Linked DNA regions of Homo sapiens: regions 1, 2, 3 and 5 are each linked to region 4. The links come from fine-mapping of genetic effects on gene expression. A gene starts in region 4. Each other region holds a variant in brackets. All regions are shown on one strand. Distances are between the middles of the regions. Region 1 overlaps FBXO42 (F-box protein 42). Region 2 overlaps FBXO42 (F-box protein 42). Region 3 has its middle 5.9 kb from the start of CPLANE2. Region 4 holds the start of FBXO42 (F-box protein 42). Region 5 overlaps FBXO42 (F-box protein 42).

The links. PIP is the estimated chance that this variant, and not a neighbour inherited with it, causes the effect. A credible set is the group of variants that fine-mapping cannot tell apart.
Region 1: its variant is the best candidate, but not a certain one, in a credible set for the expression of FBXO42 in whole blood (INTERVAL, PIP 0.61).
Region 2: its variant is the best candidate, but not a certain one, in a credible set for the expression of FBXO42 in lung (TOPMed, PIP 0.71).
Region 3: its variant is the best candidate, but not a certain one, in a credible set for the expression of FBXO42 in whole blood (TOPMed, PIP 0.53).
Region 5: its variant is the best candidate, but not a certain one, in a credible set for the expression of FBXO42 in whole blood (INTERVAL, PIP 0.84).

The regions. Positions count from the first base shown.
Region 1 is chr1:16,287,664-16,292,768 of GRCh38, reverse strand. The region is part of intron 4 of FBXO42 (F-box protein 42); the gene reads left to right. Among named protein-coding and RNA genes, the nearest start is that of CPLANE2, 53 kb to the right of the region's middle. The variant TG/G (reference allele first, on the strand shown) is at 2,087.
Region 2 is chr1:16,264,434-16,269,538 of GRCh38, reverse strand. All of the region lies in intron 4 of FBXO42 (F-box protein 42), which reads left to right. Among named protein-coding and RNA genes, the nearest start is that of CPLANE2, 30 kb to the right of the region's middle. The variant G/A (reference allele first, on the strand shown) is at 2,630.
Region 3 is chr1:16,240,558-16,245,662 of GRCh38, reverse strand. It overlaps the pseudogene MT1XP1. Among named protein-coding and RNA genes, the nearest start is that of CPLANE2, 5.9 kb to the right of the region's middle. The variant C/G (reference allele first, on the strand shown) is at 3,140.
Region 4 is chr1:16,349,813-16,354,917 of GRCh38, reverse strand. FBXO42 (F-box protein 42) reads left to right here and starts at 2,438. Exons shown (of 10, transcript NM_018994.3): 1 at 2,438-2,663. RefSeq lists an enhancer at 2,399-3,173.
Region 5 is chr1:16,299,979-16,305,083 of GRCh38, reverse strand. The region is part of intron 3 of FBXO42 (F-box protein 42); the gene reads left to right. Among named protein-coding and RNA genes, the nearest start is that of FBXO42, 50 kb to the left of the region's middle. The variant C/T (reference allele first, on the strand shown) is at 3,199.

The DNA.
Region 1 (5,105 bases), 62 kb after region 4:
TAAACAAGCTTTATGCCTTTGATAATTTAGCATGGGTGGTGCTCTTTCTTGTTAAAATGGAGCTCTGGTTTGGGGACCTTCATAGCCTCTGCCAACTACTGTGCTTATTTCTCCCTGTAATATGGAGTAAGACTTTTTTTTTTTAAACCATCAAGTTTAAAGACTGCTTTGTGGCTAGGCGAAGTGGCTCACGCCTATAACCCCAGCACTTTAGGAGGCCAAGGCAGAAGGATCCCTTGAGGCCAGGAGTTTGAGACTCACCTGGGCAACATGGTGAGACCCCCATCTCTACAAAAAATAAAAACAAAAAATTAGCCAGGCATGGTGGCATGCCTCCATAGTCCCAGATACTTGGGAGGGTGAGACAGGAGGATTGCTTGAGCCCACAGATATAAGCCCAGACGCCTAGGCGAGAGTGAGACTGTGTCTCAAAAAAAGAAACAAAGAAAGAGAAAGAGAGGAAGGGAAGAAAAGAGGAAGGCAGGAAGGGAGGGAGGGAAGCCAAAGAAAAGGTTATGCTTTGAAATTCCCAAAGTAGAAATATTGGAGAAATAACTGCTTCAATCATTTACATTCTCTATGGAATATGAATTTTTAAAAATAGAGCATTTGGAATATTCCCTTTGACAAAACATACAAACTCCTGAATGTTTAAAGTAATTTTCTAACAAAATGTCTCAAAGAATCTAGTTACTCCCTCATCCTAATCTGCAATTAGAGGCTAGTTTTAGAAGGAGGAAAACCTGAGCTTTTTGAAATGTCTACTTATAAAAAACAATTGTTTAATAAAGAGTCCTGGCTGGGCACAGTGGCTCACTCCTCTAATCCCAGCACTTTAGGAGGCTGAGACAGGAGGATCTCTTGAGGCCAGGAATTTGAGACCAGCCTGGGTAACATAGTGAGACCCTGTCTCTACAAAACAATTAAAAATGAGCCGGGCATGATGGCATGTGCCTGTAGTCCTAGCTACTTGAGAGGTTGAGGTGGGAGGATTGCTTGAGCCCAGGAGTTCAAGGCTACAGTGAGTGATGATTGCTCCACTGCACTCTAGCCTGAGTGAAAGAGGGAGACCCTGTCTCAAAAAATAGCCTGGGCTTGGTGGCTCTCGCTTACAATCCTGGCACTTCGAGAGGCTGAGGTGAGAGGATCACTTGAGGCCAGGAGTTCCAGACGAGCCTGGCCAACATAGCGAAACCCCATCTCTACTAAAAAGACAAAAAATTAGCAGGGCATGGTGGCATGTGCCTGTAACCTCAGCTACTCAGGAGGTTGAAGCATGAGAATCACTTGAGCCCAGGAGGCAGAGGTTGCAGTGAGCCAAGATTGCGCCACAGCACCCCAGCCTGGGTGGCGGAGTGAGACTGTCTCAAAATAAAATAATAAATTAAAAAAAAAAAAGTCCCATGAGATTCTCATTTAGGCAGAAACCCCATGTAAGATGCCCTAAGACAATGTTTCTGTATGCTATCATGAGTCCTAATCAAAATCACTTCCTAACTGAAATGTCAATTAGTCCTTCTGAATAAAACATAGTTGTTTATAAGTCTTGGTGTACCTGACTCACTCATTTTAGTGCATCGAGGTAGGTAGATTGGAGGGTGACTGAGGGGAGGGCACTGTCAGTTGTGAGGTTGTCTTCTAACAGAGTATGTACAGGAAGGTAATAGTTGCTTTAACAGTGTTCAGACTTCAAAAGTGTAGCTGTTGGAGAAGTAAGAGCATCAAGCAAGGAGTGGAACACTTTTGGTTGGGAGTGGAGAGTCTTGATAGAGAATACTGCTGCATCAGATGTCTTTTTACATGTGTATTTGGTTATGTGGTTATGAGATTAGAGCATTCTCCTATTGGTTGGTGTCTTAGTCAGCTCAGGGTGCCATACAAAATACCATAGACTGGGTAGCTTAAACAGCAGAAATGTATTTCTCACAGTTCTAGAGGCTGGAAATTCAAGATGAGAATCTGGCATCGTTGGCTTCTAGTGAGGATTCTCTTCCCAGCTCCTGGTTTGCAGACTGCCACCTTCTCAGTGTGTTTTCATGTAGCAGAGAGTGAGCTCTGGCATCTCTTGTGCTTCTTTTTTTTTTTT[TG/G]TCACTCTGTCACCCAGGTTGGAGTGCAGTGGTGCGATCTTGGTTCACTGCAACCTCTGCCTCCTGGGTTGGAGCAATTCTCCTGCCTCAGCCTCCCGAGTAGCTGGAATTATAGGTGTGTGCCACCATGCCTGGCTAATTTTTGTATTTTTAGTAGAGACGGAGTTTCACCATGTTGGCCAGGCTGGTCTTGAACTCCTGACCTCAGGTGATCCACCCACCTCAGCCTCCCAGAGTGCTGAGATTACAGGCATGAGCCACTGTGCCCAGCTTCTTGTGCTTCTTATAAGGGGATTCATCTTATGAGGGCTACCCTCATGACCTCATCTAAACCTCATTGTCTTCCAAAGGCTTCATCTCCACCATAGCATCACCTTGGCGTTAGGGCTTCACCATATGGATTTGGTGGAGGACACAATTCCATCTATACCAGTTGGAATTAATGTAATTTCCCAGTGAAATCTTGTCTTTAGTTCCTTTCAAAATGATAGAAGTGCTCCATCTGGAGGAAGAGTGGTATTGGAGGTAGAGTGGTGACGAGTGTTGGGATGACAGATCTTACACTAAAAGAGACCCACAGCTAGTACTTCTCAGACATTTCCAACAAGGTAACACCTCCTCCCATTTACACCTGCTTTTGTGGCCCCTGCCCTCATGGAGCTTATATTGTAACGGGAAAGAAACAAGAAGCAAGTAAGCAAATTGTTATAAATTATGAAGGAAACAAACGGAATGAAGTATAGAATAAGGGGAGAGCTCCTTTTTTTGAGACAAGGTCTTACTCTGTCATCCAGGCTGGAGTGCAATGGCACAGTCACAGCTCCCTGTAGCCTCGACCTCCTGCCTTAGCCTCCTGAGTAGCTGCGAATACAAACGTGCACCACCATGCCTGGCTAATTTTTGTATTGTTTTGTAGAGATGGGGTCTCACTATGTTGCCCATGCTGTTAGGGGAGACCTACTTTAAACAGGAGACTTTTTGTTTGTTTGTTTTTGTTGTTGTTGTTTGTTTGTTTTTGGCTGAGACCTAAAGAATGATAGTGGAGGGAAGTGAGAATGGCATGTGCCTGGTGCAGCAAAGAAAAGGACATGTTAGAGGAGCTTAAAGCAGACCTTTGTGGATGTAGCCTAAGGAGCAGGGGAGAGAGTGGCACAGGGGGAGTTGAGATAAAGACAGGAGCAAGCTTATTCACAGACTAAGGTGGGGACTCAGAAACCTTTGAGATTTTAATGAGAGGAATGTCATCATCTGGATTACTTTTTTTTTTTTTTTTAAAGAGACAATCTTGCTCCCTTGCCAAAGCTGGAGTGCAGTGGCACAATCATAATTAATTGACTATAGCCTCAAACCCCTGGGTTCAAGTGATCCTCCCACCTCGGCCTCCTGCATAGCTGGAGCCACAGGTTTGCACCCCCACATCGGGACATTTTCTTTTCTTTCTTTTTTTTTTGTAGAACTAGGGTGTCACTATGTTGCCTGGGCTGGTCTTCAACTCCTAGCCTCAAATGATCCTCCTGCCTTGGCCTCCCAAAGTGCTGGATTACAGGCATGAGCCACTGCCCTTCCCTGCCTCAATTTACATTTTAGAGCACATTTTGCTTCTATTTAGGAAATGAAGGAAGGCAAGAAAGTAAACCAGACTAGACAGAAGGCCATCAATATTGACAAGACTCAGATGAGCATATATCAGTAAGAAACTGACAAAACTTTTTTTTTTTTTTTTTGAGACATAGTCTCACTCTATCACCCAGGCTGGAGTATGATGGTGCAATCTCAGCTCACTACAGCCTCTGCCTCCCGGGTTCAAGCAATTCTTGTGTTTCAGCCTCCCAGGCAGCTGGGATTACAGCAGTGTGCCACCACACCAGGCTAATTTTTGTATATTTAGTAGAGGTGGAGTTTCACCATACTGCCCAGGCTGGTCTGGAACCCTTGACCTCAAGTGATCCGCCCACCTTGGCCTCCCAAAGTGCTGGGATTACAGGCATGAGCCACTGCGCCCGGCCAAGACTTCTTAATGAATTAGATTTAGGAGCATGAGAAGGCCAATCAAGGGTGACTTATGTTTCAGGTTTATACAGCTACGTTGATGGTGGGGCCATTTGCTGAAGTGGAAAATAAATATTTGGGAGAGGTTAGTTTTTGGTTCCTATTAAATGTTTAAGTAGTAGTATCTAGTAATTCATTGTTATGAGAGTTTGACATTTGTTTATTATTATTATTATTATTTTTATTTTTATTTTTATTTTTTTTGAGATGGAGTCTCGCTCTGTCACCAGGCTGGAGTGCAGTGGTGCGATCTGGGCTCATTGCAACCTCCACCTCCCGGGTTCAAGTGATTCTTCTGCCTCAGCCTCCCCAGTAGCTGGGGTTACAGGCATGTGCCACCATGCCCAGCTAATTTTTGTATTTTTGGTAGAGATGGGGTTTCACCATGTTGGCCAGAATGGTCTCGATCTCTTGACCTCGTGATCCGTCTGCCTCGGCCTCCTGGGATTACACGCTTGAGCCACTGCACCCGGCCTATTATTATTGTTTGTTTGAGACAGAGTTTCACTCTTGTTTCCCAGGCTGGAGTGCAATGGCATGATCTCGGCTCACTCCATCTCCTGGGTTCAAGTGGTTCTCCTGCTTCAGCCTCCCAAGTAGCTGAGATTACAGGCGCCCACCACCACACCCAGCTAATTTTTTGTATTTTTAGTAGAGACAGGGTTTCATCACGTTGGCCAGGCTATTTTTAATAGAGACAGGGTTTCATCACGTTGTATTTTTAGTAGAGACAGGGTTTCATCACCTGAGGTTAATCCTGACCTCAGGCGATCCACCCGCCCCGGCTTCCCAAAGTGCTGGGATTACAGGCATGAGCCACTGTGCCTGGCCGAGAGTTTGACACTGAAAACAAAGGGCCTGACTTCCCTTAAATGACAGCACAGGCCAGGCACAGTGGCTCACACCTGTAATCCTAGCACTTCAGGAGGCTGAGTGGGAGGATGGCTTGAGGCCAGGCCACTCTGAGGC
Region 2 (5,105 bases), 85 kb after region 4:
AAACAAAAAATTATGAGTAGCCAGATGTGGTGGCACATGTATAATTTCAGCTACTCAGGAAGCTGAGGCACGAGAATGGCTTGAACTGAGATAGTGCCACTGCACTCCGGCCTGGGGAACAGAGTGATACTCTCTTAAAAAAAAAAAAAAGTCTGGGTTCGGTGGTTTATACCTGTAATCCCAGCACTTTGGGAGGCCGAGGCAGGCAGATCACCCACGGTCAAGAGTTTGAGACCAGCCTGGCCAGCATGACAAAACCTCATCTCTACTAAAAATATAGAAAATTAGGCGGGTATGATATCATGTGCCTGTAGTCCCAGCTACTTAGGAGGCTGAGGCAGGAGAATCGCTTGAACCCAGGAGCTGAAATTGCACCACTGCACTCCAGTCTGGGTGACAGAGACAGAGACTCTGTCACAAAAAAAAAAAAAGCCAGGTGCGGTGGCTCACGCCTGTAATCCCAGTACTTTGGAAGGCCGAGGTGGGTGGATCACGAGGTCAGGAGTTCGAGACCAGCCTGGCCAACATGGTGAAACACTCCCATCTCTGCTAAAATACAAAAATTAACTGGGTGTGGTGATGCGTGTCTGTAGTCCCAGCTACTCGGGAGGCTGAGACCGGAGAATCCCGGGTTCAAGTAATTCTCCTGTCTCAGCCTCCCGAGTAGCTGGGATTACAGGCATGTGCCACCACACCCAGCTCATTTTGTTTTTTTGTTCGTTTGTTTGTTCGTTTTTAGTAGAGACGGGGTTTCTCCATGTTGGTCAGGCTGATCTTGAACTCTCGACCTCAGGTCATCTGCCTGCCTCGACCTCCCAAAGTGCTGGGATTACAGGCGTGAGCTGCTGTGCCCGGCCTCTTTGTTCTTATTAAAGTGATGTGCTTTTGATTAAGAAGGAGTTAAGATGTTATTTAAGGGAATATTTTAAGTTATTATATTAGCTCCTCCCTGACCCATGGACCTATTCCTGGTTAACCTTCTTCATGAGGTGGTGGTTCTTCCTTGTTTCCTGTAGCCCTTTGCAGTCCTGTAACAACCTGGACCTGTGATGGTCTCAGGACATGTGAATGAAAGCAGAGCCAGTAGGTTCCCTTAGAAAAGGAAGAAATCCTTCTTGTTTATTTAGAAAGTTCAGACCCTGGGATTTTTCCAGAATACATGCTTTTCTAAGGTGTATACACATTACCTCCTGCTAAAGAGAAGAGTGGGAAAATTTGTATAGGACAGATCTGGGTAACTTTTAGTCCTCCCAGGGAGAGAATAAGTAAGATTTTACCATATTTCAGTTTGGCTCACTCTCAGGGCTGACAAGGATTTTTCTGTTTTGACACCAGGCTAGAAACTTTATGACTGGTAACATTGTTTTCACTTCTTAAAGTCCCTACTTGAAAGAGTACCCCCTATGCCCCCCACCCCCATTAGAACTGCAATTAACAAATTATCAGATTAAACTGAGACTTTGGACCTCCTCTCCTCCCTCAGAAATTGAATCAAAAGACTACTTGAAATGGTAACAAGGAACTATTACTGGCTTTTGTATTGTTCATTTTTAGCTGATAAGTGCTGCCCTATTCATCAAGTGGTCTTTCATATGGTTTTGTTAAGAAGTGAAAACAATGCCAATAGAGAATTTCCTTTAGTTCATGCCTGTGGCATAGTTAGATAAGATCTAAAAGTTTCTCATGCCCATTACAAAAGTTCCTGTTATTTGGATATTTCATAAATGACCCATAGAATGATGTTTTTAAAGATGTGGATATAGTTGTAATAATAATGTATACCCTGAATCCTGAGATCCAGACAAGTTTTGTCTAATACCAGTGAATGTTGATGTCAATCAGTAACTTTTCTGGCCTTTTTACAATTGAGGAGTAAAATAGGAAGAAAAAAATGGAGTGGGTAGAGGGGGAGACCCAAAAAAATGTTTGGCTTTAACCCCACCCAAAGGTGGGCTGATGCCTCTAGGGTATGTTATAAGTAGCTGGAGCCGACCCTGATCTCAGCTCCTGAGAGATCTATAACCATTTGGCTTCCGTGGATGGCTTCAATTCAACAAACATTTTCATAAGAAATAGTCCCTGTCTTCTAGGATAGTGTAGTCTTACTGGGGAGAATCTAAATGGATAATTTCAACACCCCTGATTAGAACTGCAATTAAAGAGCACTCCTGGGTAGAACCAAGTCTTAGGAAGCAGGAGTTTAGAGGTTCTGTAACTTTGTATTTACTTCCTATTTCTTTCTTTAAAGCATTATGTACTTGTATCTTCATGGGCATTTATATAAATGCAATGACTTGTAATTATTATTGGCCACATTGATGTTAAGTTGGAAATATTTTTATTACCAGAAGAGAAACTAGTATCTGTTCCAGATAGAAACCCCTTGGTCCTTGGGCTGCAGTATTTTGGAGACCATTCCAAATAGTTGTCTTCAAGGTGTTTATGGTCAAGACAGACTTTATACTCATGAATTTTGAAGTGTTTTTCTCAATTATCCTTTTATCCCTACCTCCTCACACCACAGAACCATGAAACATGCTTTTGTTGTTGCCCTTACGAAGTATTGCCTGTAAAATCAAAATAGTTTTGAGTAAGCAGTTAAATTATAACACCAGCAGTTTTTCTTTAA[G/A]GAATCTGTTTCCTTCAAAGTTATATGTGCCACGCTATCCTCCAGTGCCCTCTAGGTTTTCTGATTATGATGGTAATATGGTATTCTGGGAAATATCTGTCCAAATTATCCTGATCTCTGAACTCCTGCTGTTGAGGTCAGTCACTTCACACAATACCATGATGACAGCTTTATCAAGCCAGATGCTTAGTCAGAGCTTTCCAAGACCCAGCTTTGGTTTTATCAGCAAAATCCATCCTTCCCACCCCCCATACACACGCCAGTTTGAGGCTCCTCACTACCACAAAACAAAACAAAAAACAGCATCTGTGGGGTAGGGTTTTAGTTAACTGGTCTATCTGGCATTACTTTGCCCTCAAGGCCAGTTTTGTGTGTGAAGGACTGGTATACTGCCTGTGGAGCTGGAGTTGGAAGTGAATGCTTTATATTGGACCCACTCTGAGAAAGCGAGTCTGCACAGAGTGGTTAAGATGGGGAGACTTAACCTATCTTAAGGCAGGAGGTTAAGCCATCCTCCCGCCTCAGTCTCCTGAGTAGCTGGGGACTACAGGTACATGCCACTGTGCCTAGCTGTTAGCAAACTTATTTTAGCATGGCTCTTTTCCTCAAATTCTCCTTTGAATTAGCATTACTTCCTGCTTGCTCCCTTATTAATAAGTTAAATATATCCTAACACATGTTTACTCTATATATGTATGAAAGAGATGTTTCTATTTTTTTTAAAAAAAACTATACTTTGAAAACAGCCATGAAAATAGCCATTTTCCGTGGGGTAGAAAGGGTTCTGACTTTTTCTTTCAAAAGTTCTATCTTGTTTGATTATTTTATTTGAAAGTGTTTTAAAGCACTTTCATTTTCTTAAGGAAATAAAAATAAATAAGTCAGTTTCTCCCCAAAAGTCTGAAGTGTGTAAGACTAGAGTAACAGTTCTATTTGTTGAGAATGTAAGTGATATTGAGAAAATGGTAGGATTATATACCTGCTTCTCATCTTGTGACATTTGGCTATTATTGCCTAAGACACCTGTACTCAGAGCCAACTGTGTAGTATGCAGATCAGGGACCAAAAGGCTTTGTGAGCCATATAGAGCTCCTTTAGGAGGCCTTGAAATGTCTTTTTTTTTTTTTTTAATAGGGACTTATCTGAACCTAAACTTCCAAGGACAAGGGATTAACTCTTCTTTCATTAAATAACCCTTTAGGTTGGATTTCTTGATTACTCAGAACATGGAATTTGCCTTTTTTTTTTTCTTTTTTAGTTTTCAAGAGGTACCTAGAACAGTGTCTAGCTCAGTGTAAGCATTATGCATTAGCTTCACCTACCATTATTCATCTGTAAAATGAGGCTAGTAATACCTGCATTTTAAGGTTATAATGATTAAATTAGATAATAAATATAAAATTTGTAGCACTCAGTAGTTAGCACATAATAGGCCATCAAACAGTATTATTTATAACTCCTTAACAATAAACTAATACTAAAAAATGATAATAGCATGGAGATATAAAAATATTTTTTAGGCCGGGCACGGTAGCTCATGCCTGTAATCCCAGCACTTTGGGGGGCCAAGACGGGAGGACCACCTGAGGTTGGGAGTTCGAGACCAGCCTGACCAACATGGAGAAACCCCATCTTTACTAAAAATACAAAATTAGCCACTTGGTGGTGCATGCCTGTAATCCCAGCTACTCGGGAGGCTGAGGCAGGAGAATCCGTTGAAACTGGGAGGCAGAGGCTGCGGTGAGCCGAGATTGCGCCATTTCACTCCAGCCTGGGCAACAAGAGCGAAACTCCGTCTCAAAAAATATATACATACATTTTTAAATCGTGCATAAAATACAGGCATCCCCAATTAAAACAGGTGATTGTTTTATCTTGTTATCAAATAGTTGAGCTGCTCTATGTAGTCCTGGGTTCTGTGTAAATAGACACTACAATTGTGGGAAAGTGGCATAGAAATCAAACTAGGATTTGGAACTGCTTCACTGTTTAACCAGCTTCTTTGCAAACGTAAACAAGAATGCCGTGTAATTATACCACCATCATATGTGAAATTTTATTCTGATTTCATAGGAACCTTGGGAAACAGCTGAACCTATTAGCAGTTTTAGGGAATGTTAGTTCTGTTGTATAGGGTGTCTATCTGATTATTCAGTTTGCCACAGCTGCCTTTTGGGCTTGTGCCTTGTTTTGAAATTTGTTCCATTGATCATATCTGCTGTGCGATTTAGGAGGCCTTTGATGTGTTTGGGGAATGAAGCCCATGAGGGTGACTCCTGGCTCTAGGGGAAGAGGGCTCTAGGGGAAGAGGCTCAAGTAACATGTTCATCTACGCTTGATGTGGGCACATTTGGTCCTGTCGTGCTTGATGGGAACTCAATGGGAATGACACCCTTCCTTTCTTCACTTTTGTGCAGTAATGGCACTTAGACTGAATTTAGAAGCCCAGTGGCTTTGTTATTTTGAAGGCAGGCCA
Region 3 (5,105 bases), 110 kb after region 4:
GCACTCCCCAGCCAGGGTTCTTGCTTTTCTGGATACTAAAGGGTCAGTGGGCTGGGCATGGTGGCTCACGCCCGTAATCCCAATACTTTGGGAGCCCAAGGCAGGTGGATCCCTTGAGGTCAGGAGTTCAAGACCAGCCTGACCAACATGGCAAAACCCCTTCTCTACTACAGATACAAAAATTAGCCAGGCATGGTGGTGCACGCCTGTAATCCTAGCTACTCAGGAGGCTGAGGCAGGAGAATCACTTGAACCCAGGTGGAGGCTGCATTGAGCCAAGATTGCACCACTGCACTCCAGCCTGGGCAACAAAGCGAGACTCCATCTCCCAACAAATAAATAAAGGGCCAGAGGCCTATGCACATTCGGGTGTAAATTGAAAATCTGCCTGGGGAAGGGGAGACAGTGCAGGAATCAGCACCTCAGCCCAAGGTTTTGCCTTCATTACTCCTCCCGTGAGGCCTGAGAAAGGTTCCTAGAAGTGGTAGGCTTTGAGCACCCCCACGTCCAGGCAGGAGAGGAAGCATCCACCAAAATTTTGCCCGTGAAAATCCTGCAGGCTGGCCTCTGCGTGGTGCTGCCGCACATGACTGGGTCTTAGTGCTCTGTGCCTTTTCACCTCCCCCAGGCCAAGGAGAGACTCCCAGCTAAGTTCCACCTTCTGGTCTCAGTGGCTTTACTACTTCTCTTCCCACAAACACTGCCAGCATGTCAGTGGATGCTGTGTGAGGTGATGATTTGCCCACGGCTGGAAGTGTTCAAACAGGGTCTGACCACCTGCATGGGAGGAAATAACAGAGATGCATCAGATCAAGATTGGAACCAAGGAAACGCTTGATGCCATTTCAATTTTTTGAGACGTAGTTCTGTGGACTCAGAAGGGACTTAGAGGCAGTAGGACAGGGCAGACCTAGGTTCAGGAGCTGACTGTCACTTTGAGCTGGAGCAAGTCATCCTGCCTCACTGAGCCTCAATTTTATCAGTAAAATGGCAATGATGGCAGCCAGCCTCACAGGTTAGCAACTTAGCTGGAACCAGCCAAGAATCGTTTAATCCATTGGATGGGTGTGATTCCCCAAAAGGCCACCTGAGGGCACCCTGTGAAAGGCTTCAAGTGTGCTTGGGCGATCTGTCGGAGGCAGTCTTGAGAAAGAAAGCAGATGGGCAGGAGTAAGAAAATGCTTGCCTGTTTCTCCCCTCCCTCTGTCAGTTAAGCCTGGGGGGCACCCGTCCCTGGCCCCTGCCTTGTTTCAAGTACCATCCTCCAGCTGGCCTACCTGCCTTTCCTTCCCCAGCCCTCAGCTGTGGGAAAATTACCATCTTTCTCATGGGGCTGGGCTCTGGGTCCAGAGCCTGTCGGAATGCACAAAGCCAAGCCCATGTCTTAAGTAAATGCCAAAAAGTCCTAGCAGAGTGTGTTCTGCACCCACCAGGGAGCCTGTCTGCCCACCTACTGCAAGGAAGAGAAGGAGGGCTCCTTTCCAGCAGAAGCCTGGGGAGAGGGAGGATGCTCCTGCCCGAGGACATGGGCTGTGGCCCGTTGACAAGGCCTAGAACACCTGGAACTGACTGGGAGACTATTCACTCTCAGCAAGCATTCCCTGAGCATCTGTGACCCCCGAGGCACTGGGACACACACAAGACACAAAAGAGGCCCACCCATGAAGGAGCTTACAGCCTAATCACAAACCAGGGAGGTGTCACATGGGCTAAACAAAAATGACAAATCCTGAGATTCTAAGGTCAAAAGACAATCCAGGTATCATACTAAAAAGATACCAAAGAGGATGGAGTCAGTAGAACCATCTGCAACCAGTGCAGCCACCCAGGGCTGGGACAGTTGTTCGGGAAGCCAGAAGCCAAGAAGTTAGCCTTCTCTTTGCTTTGGTGTCTTAGTTCCCTTGTGCTGCTATATACCATACCACAGACTGAGTGATTTATAAGCAACAGAAATGTATTTCCCACATTTCTGGAGGCTTAGAAGTCCAAGCTCAAGGCACCATCAAGCTTGGTGTCTGGTGAGGGCCCAGTCTCCACTTCCAAGACATTGCCTTGTTGCTGCTCCATCGTGAAGGCTGTGTCTTCACACCGTGGATGGGATGAACTGGCCCCTCACGCCTTTCCATAACATCACTAATCCCATCGTGAGGGCTCTGCCCTCATGACTTAGTCATTCCCTGAAGGCCCCACCTGTTAATACTGTCACAGTGGTGATTAAACTTCAACATGTGAATCTGGCAGGACGTTCAGATCATGGCACTTGGCCTCGTCCTGCTAACCTGTGGCAGGGGGGCAGATGAGGATAGAACCTATCTGGGGCATCCCAGATGGGTGGGGTCTAGGCCTCGCTTCTGGCAGTCAGTAATGCAGGGTCTTGATAAGCCTATAAGCCGCAGCAGCCAGTGGTCAGGGCTGAGGACAATGGAGGGTGACCCATGTGGACTTGATGGCCAGAGGTCATCCCCTCAGATGTAATGGGAAAGGAGCTCCCGAGTGGAATCCGTAGTGGGAAGACAACACTTAGGACCGCATGGCTGGGGCCACGGCAGAGGCACAGAGCAGAGTGCTCTCTGCAGCAGAAGGCCCACAAGAGATGGCGTCCAAGGAGTAGCATCGCTCCCCAGCCATGCTTCCCTGGGATTTGGGCAAGCCTCCCTGCACACCAAACATGAGCCTCAGGGCGGGCTGGAGGAGGGGGTTTCCGGTTCTTCTGCCTCTCCTGGGTCTGACCTCGTCGTTGTCATTGCCCAGGTGGCATCCAAGGCTCTGCTGTCTGTCCACAGCATCCGGACCTCTCATCTGTCTACACCCATTGCTTCAGGCTTGGTCCCTCCGCCGTCAGTAATGTCCAGCTTCACTCAGGCCGCTCACCTGCGCTTTACATTCCAACATCTGCTGTGAGTGTGTCCTCTCTGGGCAGCCCCCCACCCTCCCTCACTCCCCAGGGGCTCCTCCTCTGACCCTGTGCGCTTCCTCCATGCTTCCCCCACAGTTAGGGGCACCACCATCCATCCAGTCACCTGGGAATGATCCCAGGGTCAGGTGATCTGAGGATGGAGAATTGACCACTGAGCTTGGTGGCGAGGCTGGTGCCCTTGACCTGACTTGATTAACTGGCTGTGGCTCCAGCTTGGAGAAT[C/G]CCTAAAGCCAGTGAGCCTGGTGGAAGGACTGCTAGGAGGCAGAGCAAGCATTCCAGGTGGGAGTGGAGCACTCCTGGTGCCAGGCCATGCTGAGGGAGGGGTGGGTGTTATTCTAGGAGCCAAGAGGATTTTAAGCCTGGTGTCCTAGCTGACCTCCCGCCCCACACCTACCCAGGATCCTCAGGCAGGGCTCTCCATGCCTCATTCTCACCCCAGCTCGGCCTGTGTGTCTGCCCACCTGGGCCTCCCATCCACTCTGTCAAGTTGGTGACTGTGTCCCTGCCTTGTGGAGTCCTCTCAAGGTCTTGTGGGGACCTTGTCCAAGAGGTTTTTAATAAATATTTGTGGGGAGACCAAACCAAGAAGAAATGAGTGGATTAATCACAGGGCTCTAGGCCGGGCACAGTGGCTCATGCCTGTAATCCCAGCACTTTGGGAGGCCGAGGCGGGCAGATCACGAGGTCAGGAGATTGAGACCGTCCTGGCCAACATGGTGAAACCTTGTCTCTACTAAAAATACAAAAATTAGCTAGGCGTGGTGGCATGCGCCTGTAGTCCCAGCTACTTGGGAGGCTGAGGCAGGAGACCTGCTTGAACCTGGGAGGTGGAAGTTGCGGTGAGCCAAGATCATGCCACTGCACTCCAGCCTGGCGACAGAGCAAGGCTCTGTCTCAAAAAAAAAAAAAAAAAAAATCAGAGGGCTCTAGACTAGAAGAGTCCTTAGGGAGATGTTCTACATGTTTTGCTTGAGGCCCTGAAAGGAGAAGCAGCTGGCTTAGGGGGACACATAGTTTAGTGGTCAGAGGGGCACAGGAGAGCAGAACTCATAGACCAACACGGTCCACAAGCGTCCTTCTGAAACGCAGTTCTAACCATGTCACTTTCAGGTCCCAACAGTCAGCTGGCCTCCTTTGCCCAGCAGCAGTGTTTACATGAGGTCTGTGGACCCTGTTATGGACTGAATTATGCCCTGCTCCACCCAAATCCATACATTGAAGCCCTAGCCCCCAATGTGACCATATTTGGAAATAGGTCCTTTAAAGAGGTAATTAAGGCACGCTTTTCATCTGTCCCGCTGAGTGTTTGCCTCTTGATCAGGAACTCCTGCTTCTCCCTGCCTCTAAATGGACCCCAACTGCTCCTGCTCGCCTGATGGTTCCTGCGCCTGTGCCGGCTCCTGCAAATGAAAAGAGTGCACATGCACCTCCTGCAAGAAGAGCTGCTGCTCCTGCTGCCCTGTGGGCTGTGCCAAGTGTGCCCAGGGCTGCATCTGCAAAGGGACGTCGGACAACTGCAGCTGCTGTGCCTGATGCCAGGACAGCCCTGCTCTCAGATGTAAATAGAGCAACCTTATAAACCTGGATTTTTTTGGTACAACCCTGACCCATTTGCTACATCTTTTTTTCTATGAAATATGTGAATGGCAATAAATTCATCTAGACTAAAAAAAAAAAAAAAAAAAAAGGTAATGAAGGGTGAGCATGGTGACTGATGACTGTAATCCCAGCACTTTCAGAGGCCAAGGCAGGCAGATCACTTGAGGCCAGGAGTTTGAGACAAGCCTGGGCAACAAGGCAAAACCGTACCTCTAAAAAAATACAAAAGAAAAAGTCCGGGCATGGTGGCTAATGCCTGTAATCCCAGCACTTTGGGAGGCCAAGGCGGGCGGATCACCCGAGGTCAGGAGTTCAAGACCAGCCTGGCCAACATGGTAGAACCCCGTCTCTACTAAAAATACAAAAATTAGCTGGGTGTGGTGGCAGGCGCCTGTAATCCCAGCTACTTGGGAGGCTGAGGCAGGAGAATCACTTGAACCTGGGAGATGGAGGTTGCAGTGAGCAAAGATCGCGCCATTGCACTCCAGCCTGGGGCACAAGAGCGAGACTTTGTCTCAAACAAACAAACAAAAATACAAAAAAAAAAAAAATTAGCCAGGCGTGCTGATATGCACCTGTAGTCCTAGCT
Region 4 (5,105 bases):
CCACCGCCTCTGGCTCATACAGCTCTCTATGGGTAAGGGTGACCCAAGTCTGCTCAAAGAGGCCTTGCCCTCCAACTTGAGGGGAACTTGGCTTCTGGCCCAGCCCTATGCCCCATGAGATTTCCTAGGAGGAAACTTTGTAAAATATTTGAAGAGATTTATTCTAAGCCAAATATGAGTGACCATGGCCCATGACACAGCCCTTGGGAGATCCTGAGAACATGTGCCCAAGGTGGTTGGGAAGCAGCTTGGTTTTATACATTTTAGAGAGACATGAGACATCAATCAAATACATTTAAGATATATTAATACAGGGCCAGGTGCAGGGGCGTATGCCTGTAATCCCAGCACTTTGGGAGGCCGAGGCGGGTGGATCAACTGAGGCAAGAGTTCGAGACCAGCCTGGCCAACATGGTGAAACCCCGTCTTTACTAAAAATACAAAAATTAGCTGGGTGTGGTGGCACATGTCTGTAATCCCAGCTACTCAGGAGGTTGAGGCACGAGAATCGTTTGGACCTGGGAGGCAGAGGTTGCAGTGAGTGGAGATCACACCACTGCACTCCAGCCTGGGCGAAGAGTGAGACCCTGTCTCAATAAATACATAAAAAGGCCAGGCGCCGTGGCTCACACCTGTAATCCCAGAACTTTGGAAGGCCGAGGTGAGTGGATCACGAGTTCAGGAGTTTGAGACCAGCCTGTCCAAGATGGTGAAACCCCGTATTTTCTACTGAATTTTGTATTTTCTACTGAAAATACAAAAATTAGCTGGGCACGGTGGCGGGCGCCTGTAATCCCAGCTACTCGGGAGGCTGAGGCAGGAGAATCGGTTGAACCCAGGAGGCGGAAGTTGCAGTGAGCGGAGATGGTGCCACTGCACTCTAGTCTGGGCGACAGAGCAAGACTCAGTCTCAAAAAAATAAACAAATAAATAAAAATAAGTAAATAAATAAATAAAAACTACATTGGTTCGGTGCAGAAAGACCGGAAACTTGAAGTGGGGGCTTCCACATTATAGGCAGATTTAAACATTTTCTGATTGGCAATGAGTTGAAATAGTTATTATCAATAGGCCTGGTGCGGTGGCACACGCCTGTAATCCAAGCATTTTGGGAGGCCGAGGCAAGTGGATTACTTGAGCTCAGGAGTTTGAGATGAGAGTGGACAACATGGCGAAACCCTGTGTCTACAAAAAAAATGGAAAAATTAGCCAGGCATGGTGGTGCCCGCCTGTAGTCCCAGTTACTCAGGAGGCTAAGGTAGGAGGATAGCTTGAGCCTGAAAGACAGAGGTTGCAGCGAACCAAGAACTCATCACTGGACTCCAGCCTGGGCAACAGAGTTAGACCCTGTCTCAAAAAAAAAAAAGTTATTATCAATAGAAATGAATGTCTGGGTTATGATAAGGGATTGTGGACACCAAAGTTTTATCACGCACGTGAAGCCTCCAAGTGGCAGGTGGGCTCCAGAGAGAACAGATTGTAAATGTTTCTTACCAGTCTTAAGGTCTGTTGTGTTGATGTCAATGCTGAAGGATGTAATGAGGCATGTCTCATGTCCTGCTTCCCGTCATGGCCTGAACCAGTCTCTCAGGTTGGTTACATTTTAGACTGCCCTGGCCTAGGAGGAAGTCCGTTCAGATGGTTTGGTGTTGGGGGGGGGGTGGGGGCTTAGTTTTTTGTTTTGTTTTGTTTTGTTTTTTTGGCTTACAGAGTTTAGACTGAAGCCTTTGACTCTGTATCTGGCATTTCCTTAGACCACATGCTGTAGGGCTGGGCTCATGAAGGTTCTCACCTACACACCAGGTTGCTCCCTTGAGAAGGGGGACTTTGCTGGATCCTATAACCTAGCTAGTAGGAAGTAAAGGAGCTTGGGAACCAGACAAGCCTGAGTTTAAATCCTCTTTCCCGCGCCGCCCCACCTCCACTGATAGGTGTGTGACTCCGGGCAAATAAGTGATCGTTTTCTGTGCCTCAGTTTCCTCATCTGAAAAGTGGAGCTAGTAAGAACTCACAGTGGTTGCTACGAGGCTACGGTTAAGGGAAGACTTCTCCTGCACACCTCAAGCACAGTTTCCCTCCCCTTGGCGATATCCAAGAGCACTCACATCCGCCACAGCCCTCTCTGCTCATCGGGCCCTCGGGGTAGAAGTGAGTTAATTCCTGGCTAAATGTTAGTCTCAAACCACCGGGAAAACCACCCAGTTGCCCCAGACAGTGCAGCGGAGGGTGGGTGCGGCTATCAGGTCGACGCTAGAGACGCGGCGAAGGCGGGTGCGGAGGCCTAGCTCCCCCGAGCGCATTCCACCCTCCACAGAACCTCGGCCTGTGACCACGGCCTTTCTCAACACTGCGCCGCCCCCTGGCCGCCCCTCGCCATCCCGCCGCGCTGACGTGAGTGCGCGCGCGTCCGCCGCGCCCGCCCCGGCGCATGCGCGCTCTGCGCTGTCTTCTCCCGGCCTGAGCAGCAGCAGCTGCGGCGGCGGCGGCGTTTGAGTGGAGGAAGATGGCGGCTCCGGGCGGCTCGGGGTCCCGCCAGCTGTGAGGAGCCCCGAGCACGGCTGTCGCGGCCTGAGGCAGAGCGCCTCTGCTCTGGCCCTGTCCCTGGCTCCCTCATTACCGTCGCCAGCGGAGCGAACCCGAGAGCGTGGAGCGGGCTGGGCCAGGTGAGGCCTCTCCTCCTCCCCGGGCCGCAGAGGGGAGCCGGCGCCTTCTGCCCTTTATGCCCGGGACTGGCAAGGGGCAGCGGGCGCCCGGGGTCTGACGCAGGCCCCGTATCCCACGCGGGGGTCGGTCCTGGTTGGGCAGGGTGACTTGCTATCGCCGTCCTCGAGTGAGGCGAGGAGGAGGACAGCTCCTTTCCAGCCAGCCCTTGGGTTGGGAGCGAACCCACCCCCTCTCCTCAGCAGGGTGGTTCTCGTCCCCTCACCCGGGCAGTGAAGGGGTGTGTGGCCCGGGCAAGGATGGCTTTAGGGTGTCAGGTAATCTTTCATCGCTCCTCCGAACATTTCACTCCTTTGCGAGAGAGGAGTCGGGGGTCGGGTGCCCATCAAAATTGGGGCTGCGGCTGGGGGCTAGCATCTCTGAACCTGCAGCTGCAAAGGGATAATTTTGGAATTGGTTTACGTTAAATAAAACACAAAAGGCCTTTCCTATCCCCTAGCTTGTTGAGTGTTCCCTTAGAGAAATGGGAACTGCGGATCTCCTTGCTTGAGACAGCAATCCATGCTGTGACTGTGGAAGGCTTCTCTTGGCGAGAATTGTGTGTGCAAAGGGAACGGTGGAGGGTGGGAACGAATTTGTAAGCGAAGAGAAAACGATTGTGAGATCTTGATGGTCGCTGCAGAGTAACTTCAGCGCTGAGTTCGTTTGAAACCTTCGGTTTGTTAAGATTCAGAATAACCAATTGCTTTGTCTGTTAAATCTCCCGATTTCTGTTAGGAAAATAAAAGCCTCATTTCTTAATTGCCAGAGTCTGGATTTTTCTGTGGTGGGATTCTGATCGATCTAGATGAAGATTCTGACACATTACCAGTTTTACTTGCTGGCAGTTGCTGGCCCCGACGTTGAAACTATGTTGTTCCTTTTTGAGAACAACTTTTATTGCTGTTTAAATGCTAATTGGGAGACTTCGATTGTGTTTCTGTCATGTAGGGAAGTCGGTTTGAAGCCTTGTGGTCTCTTTCTTGAGGAATGATGGCTTCACTGAACTTGTGCTATGCAGAATTGTTGAGGCGATTGCTTTTGCTTGGACACACCAAAATATCTTTTGTAACAAATTGGCTTTACTTCTGCTTAAGAATGATGACATCATGGATTTAAAGAGGCAAGGAAAATTTGGGGGAAGTACCATCATTTAGAATTGAATATTTAGAATTAAGTCTGTATATCTTATGGCCATTAGTGATGCTGTGTTAAATTGCTAACTTTGAGTGTATTCACGTGTGTAATCTGATTGGGTGTCTTTTCTATTGTATGTTGTCATTTTATACCCAGTAACTGTTTGCTTTTGACAAGCCAGTATAAATAGATGATTCAATCTACATTGATCCATAGGCATGTTGCGTATCTTAAAAAGCTTTTCATTGTTAAAATGACAACTGTTTAGGTTATTATTTGACCATTTTCTTTCTTTCTTTCTTTCTTTCTTTCTTTCTTTCTTTTTTTTTTTTTTTTTGCAGTTTCTCACTCTGTCATCCAGGCTGGAGTGCAGTAGCACAGTCTCGGCTCTCTGCAATCTCCATCCCCTGGGTTTAAGCGATTCTCCTGCCTCAGCTTCCTGAGTAGCTGGGATTACAGGTGTGCGCCACCACGCCCGCTAATTTTTTTTTTTTTTTTTTTTTTTTTGTAATTTTAGTAGAGACGGGGTTTCACCGATGTTGCCCAGGCTGATCTCAAACTCCTGGTCTCAAGCGATACCCTGCCCCACCCCAGGCTTGAGCCACCGTGCCCAGCCTCCTTTTCTATTTTTAAATCAAAGACTTTTCCATAGAAATTTGTCGATTTTCTTAGTGTCTTTGCTAAAGATGTAAATCTGAACCAGCAGCTTCTCTGTGGTAGAAAATTGGAGAGCTACTTTGCATATCAATTTGCTAATAAAGAGTCATGAAATTAATGCAGTAAAACATCCTGGTGGCTCATCATTATGCTTCTTGGCATAATATGTTGCACTGTTATGCTAAATCATCATCAGGTATTGATGCAACTTCATGACATCCATGACATCATTTGCTCTCCAGATTTTGACCTTTGCAATTCCTTACCTTAGTTACAAAAAGAACAGGATCAGAAAAAAAATAGCTTAGGATGCTTCTTCTTGTCTGATTTCTAGAGGGGTCTTTAATAACAGCTTTATGTGGTTTAAACCCTGAGTAAGATTCAGAGCAGGGTGAGTCCTACCTATTATGGAGAGCAAGCAAAGAAAATGCTAACAAAACGTCTGAGTTTTATGAGAACACTGAGGTCCCAGGGAGAAGCTATCTCAAAGATGAACAAATACGTAATTATCTTTGTGATTTCAGAATTGTTTTAGTCAATGAATTAACTCTTTTTGTTTGTTTTTTGAGACATAGTTTTGCTCTTGTTTCCCAGGCTGGAGTGCAATGATC
Region 5 (5,105 bases), 50 kb after region 4:
AAGAGAATGTAAAATGAGAGTTTATATTAATTTTATAACCAGAATTAGGGAAAAGTGTCAGCCTAAATATATTGTAGGCAGTTTGTTAAGAATTTTATATTCTGCTTTTTCTTTTTTTTGAGACAGAGTCTCTGTTGCCCAGGGTGGATTGCAGTGGTGCAATCTTGGCTCACCGCAACCTCCACCTCTTGGGTTCAAATGATTCTCCTGCCTCAGCCTCCTGAGTAGCTGGGACTACTGGTGTGTGCCACCACACCTGGCTAATTTTTGTATTTTTAGTAGAGATAGGGTTTCGCCATGTTGGCCAGGCTGGTCTCGAACTCCTGACCTCAGGTGATCCACCCACCTCGGCCTCCCAAAGTGCTGGGATTACAGGTGTGAGCCACCGCGCCCAGCCCTCTGCTTTTTCATTGGATTTTTCTCTACTCCAGAGTGGTCAAGGTGTTATGCTTAGCGTTTTAAACATCTGACATTATCTAAGAGGAAAACAAAGGAAAGCTGTACATGAGGGTATTTCTAAGATTTTGCTTAGGGAGTAGTCAGATTTTAGTACTAGGTCATATAATGGCTATTTAACATAATACATGTTCAGCAAACACAAAATTTAAATGGACTCCTACAAAAATTTTGAATGTGACAAGTGTCGATTATAAAATTCAAATTTGGGCTGGGTTCAGTGGCTCACGCTTGTAATCCCAGCACTTTGGGAGGCTGAAGTTGGCTGATCACCTGAGGTCAGGAGTTTGAGACCAGCCTGGCCAACATGGTGAAACCCTGTCCACTAAAAATAGAAAAAAAAATTAACCAGCCATGGTGGCACATGCCAGTAATCCCAGCTATTTGGGAGGCTGAGACAGGAGAACTGCTTGAACCTGGGAGGCGGAGGTTGCAGTGAGCCGAGATTGCACCATTGCACTCCAGCCTGGGCAACAAGAGTGAAACTCCATCTCAGAAAAAAAAAAAAAAAAAATACAAATTTGGCTGGGTGCTGTGGCTCACGCCTCTAATCCCAGCACTTTGGGAGGCCAAGGCGGGCGGATCACCTGAGGTCAGGAGTTTGAGAACAGCATAGCCAACATGGTACAACCCCGTCTCTGCTAAAAATATGAACAATTCCATCTTGGCTAACACGGTGAAACCCCGTCTCTTAAAAAAATATATATATAAAAAATTACCCGGGCATGGTGGCGGGCGCCTGTAGTCGCAGCTACTGGGGAGGCTGAAGCAGGAGAATGGCGTGAATCCAGGGGGTGGAGCTGGCAGTGAGCCGAGATCACGCCACTGCACTCTAGCCTCGGTGACAGAGTGAGACTCCGTCTCAAAAATAAATAAAATAAAAATATAAACAATTAGCCAGGTATGGTGGCAGGCACCTGTAATCCCAGCTACTCAGGAGGCTGAGGCAGGAGAATCACTTGAACCCGGGAGGCGGAGGTTGCAGTGAGTCGAGATCATGCCACTGTACTCCAGCCTAGGCAACAAGAGCGAAACTCTGTCTCAAAAAAAAAAAAAAAATTATCTTCTTGCCTTTCTTCTCTCTTCATGTGAACCTGGACTAAAGACCATTAATAACCACCTCTAAAACTGGGGACAGTATCTCCTCCTCCTCTGACATTCGGAAATCTGTAAGAAATCTGTAAAGTCATTGCTTACTGTCATCACTGAAAAGCAGTATAAACATGAAGTAGGCAAGGGGCAGGGATGTGCAGCATCCTGCAGTGCATAGGACAGTCCTACAGATAAAAAGATTATCCTGCCCCAAATGATAAGAGCTCCTGTTGGGAAATACTGCAAGTCTGAAACATGCAACTAGCCTTGCATTCTTCCGTCAGCAAGCTTCAGCGTTAGTGTGCTGCATGTAGGAGTTTTCATTCTGCCTGCCTTTCAAGGACCTGGCTTGCCTTTTCAGCCTGACTCACTGCTGCATCCTTAGGTAGCCAGACTTCAGCCACATGAACCTCCTTGTTATGTCTTAAACTTCCTTATTTGCCCTTCCCTTTTTTTCTTTTTTGAATTAGTTTTTGAAATTTTTAATTGTGTTTTGCCATGTTGTCCAGACTGGTCTCGAACCCCTGAGCTCAAGCAGTGTGCCCGCCAGATATGGTTTGGCTCTGTGTCCCCACCCAAATCTCATCTCCTCCAGTGGTAATCCCCATGTGTCAAGGGAGTGACCTGGTGGGAGGAGACTGGATCATGGGGGCGGTTTCCTCCATGCTGTTCTTGTTATAGTGAAAGAATTTTCATGAGATCTGATGGTTTAAAAGTGGCGGTTTCGGCTGGCCGCAGTGGCTTACGCCTGTAATCCCAGCACTTTGGGAGGCTGAGGAGGGCGGATCACTTGAGGTCAGGAGTTTGAAACCAGCCTGGCCAACATGGTGAAACCCCGTCTCTACTAAAAATACAAAAATTAGCCGGGCCTGGTGGCGGGTGCCTATAGTCCCAGCTACTTGGGAGGCTGAGGCAGGAGAGTTGCTTGAACCCCTGTGGTGCAGGTTGCAGTGAGCTGAGATTGCACCACTGCACTACAGCCTGGGCAACAGAGCGAGACTCCGTTTCAAAAAAGAAAAAAAGGTGGCAGTTTCCCCTGTGCTCTTTCTCCTGCTGCTTTGTAAGAAGTTGCTTGATTCTCCTTTGCCTTCTACCATAAATGTAAGTTTCCTGAGGCCTCTCCAGCCATGTGGAACTGTGAGTCAGTTAAACCTCTTTCCTTTATAAATTACCCAGTCTTGGATAGTTCTTTATAGCAGTGTGAAAATGGACTAATACACTACCTCAGTCTTGCTAAGTGCCTAGATTACAGGCGTTGAGCTACCGCACCCGGCCTGCCCTTCTTAATGGACTGAAAGTGTCCTGTTCTCTAAAAGTCATCTCAAAGATAAAATCAAAAGCCACATTTTTTACCAACTTCTCTCAGATTCCTCGCCGTAGATATTAAGCTCTTTTCTTCCTCTCTGCTTCCCTAATATACTATTCATACCTTCCTCCATTATTTATTACCATCTGTCTTTTGCCATTATTATCTGTGTGAGAGAGGCTGCATGCTAAAAAGGAAAGGCCTTTGGATGTGGGAAGCAAGTTTCTTGGCTTGTCTGACCCACAGTTTCTTTGTCTGAAAAATGGATATGACAAATTCTGTTTGTGCCATAGATTGCTGAGAAATGCATTTAAGAAAACACTTGTAAAAATATGTTTTAAAGT[C/T]GAGGCAGGAGAATGACTTGAGCCCAGGTGTTTGAGACCAATTTGGGCAACATCTCTATTTAAAATTAAAATATATGTATATATTTTAAGCTGTAAAAAAGTAGGATGATGATGATGTCTCCCCCACAAGATTGTCGTCTACTTGAAGATAGACAGGCTCCATGTCTTAGACATTCTTGTACCGTTTCTTTTTTTTTTGTTGTTTTTTTTTTTTTGAGATGGGGTCTCACTCTGTCACCCAAGCACCCAGGCTGGAGTGCAGTGGCGCGGTCTTGGCTCACTGCAGCCTCTGCCTCCCAGATTTAAGCTATTCTCTTGCCTCAGCCTCCCAAGTAGCTGGGATTACAGGTGCCTGCCACCACGCGCAGCTAATTTTTGTAGTTTTAGTAGAGACGGGGTTTCGCCCTATTGCCCAGTCTGGTCTCAAACTCCTGGGCTCAAGAAATCTGCCCATCTCAGCCTCCCAAAGTGCTGGGATTGCAGGTGTGAGCCACCGCACCCAGCCTTCTTGTACTGTTTCACAACACCTTGTTCATAGTTGATATCTAATAAATTTGGTATCAATATATTTTGATACCTAATAATTTTTGTGGACTTAAGTGCAACAAAGGTATGCACAGTATAGTATCTTTCCTATGGAAAAGTCTGGGACAAAAAAGTCAGGTGAAGTAAAAAGGCCAATTCTAGGGCCAGGTGCAGAGGCTCACCCCTGTAATCCCAACACTTTGGGAGGCCAAGGCAGGTGGATCACTTCAGGCCAGGAGTTGGAGACCAGCCTGGCCAACATCGTGAAACCCTATCTCCACTAAACATACAAAAATTAGCTGGGCGTGGTGGGCGCACGCCTGTAATCCAGCTACTCGGGAGGCTGAGGCAGGAGAATCGCTTGAACCTGGGAGGCAGAGGTTGCAGTGAGCCAAGATTATGCCACTGCACTCTAGCCTGGGTGACAGAACAACACTCTGTCTCAAAAAAAAAAAAAAAAAAAAAAAGGCCAATTCTAGCTTTTTGGTGAATGTGTGCATAGCTAATCATGCAAGCTTTAATTAATGTAGAATGTCCTTTTCAGATTGATGTAGGGGGTCTCCTGAGTCCCCAACATCATGCATTGAAAAATGTTTCAGTGTTGTAGGTGTCACATATAGTCAGGTAGTTTCATACACAATGCTCATCATGCTCCTGCAGGAGCCAGCAGGCCCAGACTGGATAACCGCCCTTGCTTCTTCATAGTTACGTAATTAGAGACCTTATCAAATATGTTCTGGCTTGTAGGTGTGAGACACATGACAGCATAGTCTCTTTAAGCATGGGATAAATGCCTCAGGATCTTTCCCTGGAGACAGGTGAAGAAACAAAAGAGAATTTGACGTCTGAAAATGCAAAAGCATATCATTCATTTAGTGAGCATTTATTGAATGCTCCATACACCATGGAAAAGATGAAACTACTGGAAGATCTTGCACTTGAGATGATTATAGAATAGTGGAGAAGTATTCAGAACTGTGAAGAACTGTTTGCTTGCTCTGTGTGTAATTAAATTGTGACTATTTGACTTGTATTTTAATAGGGATGATTAGTATGTGTCGTAAACTAAGCCCATTTCAGAAAACTTGAAGAGATTTACCAGTTGGAATAGACACTCTCAGTATTATTTGTTAGCCCAGTATTCATACTGTACTGTGAGCTGTAACTGTATAGCACATTCTAGTGGTCTAGATGTTCTGAAAGGAAAATTTTCTATTTAGGTTGAGAACTTGTGAAAAGGGAAATTACTACTGGAGCACTGGGAGTTGCTCAAATTCTTTTTCCTAAAAGGTTCATTTGAACTTGTTGGGTCTTCCTCCCTGCCCCTGCCCCTCTCAGATCAATCTATAGGTGTCTTAAATAAAAAATAGGCAATAAGTAAA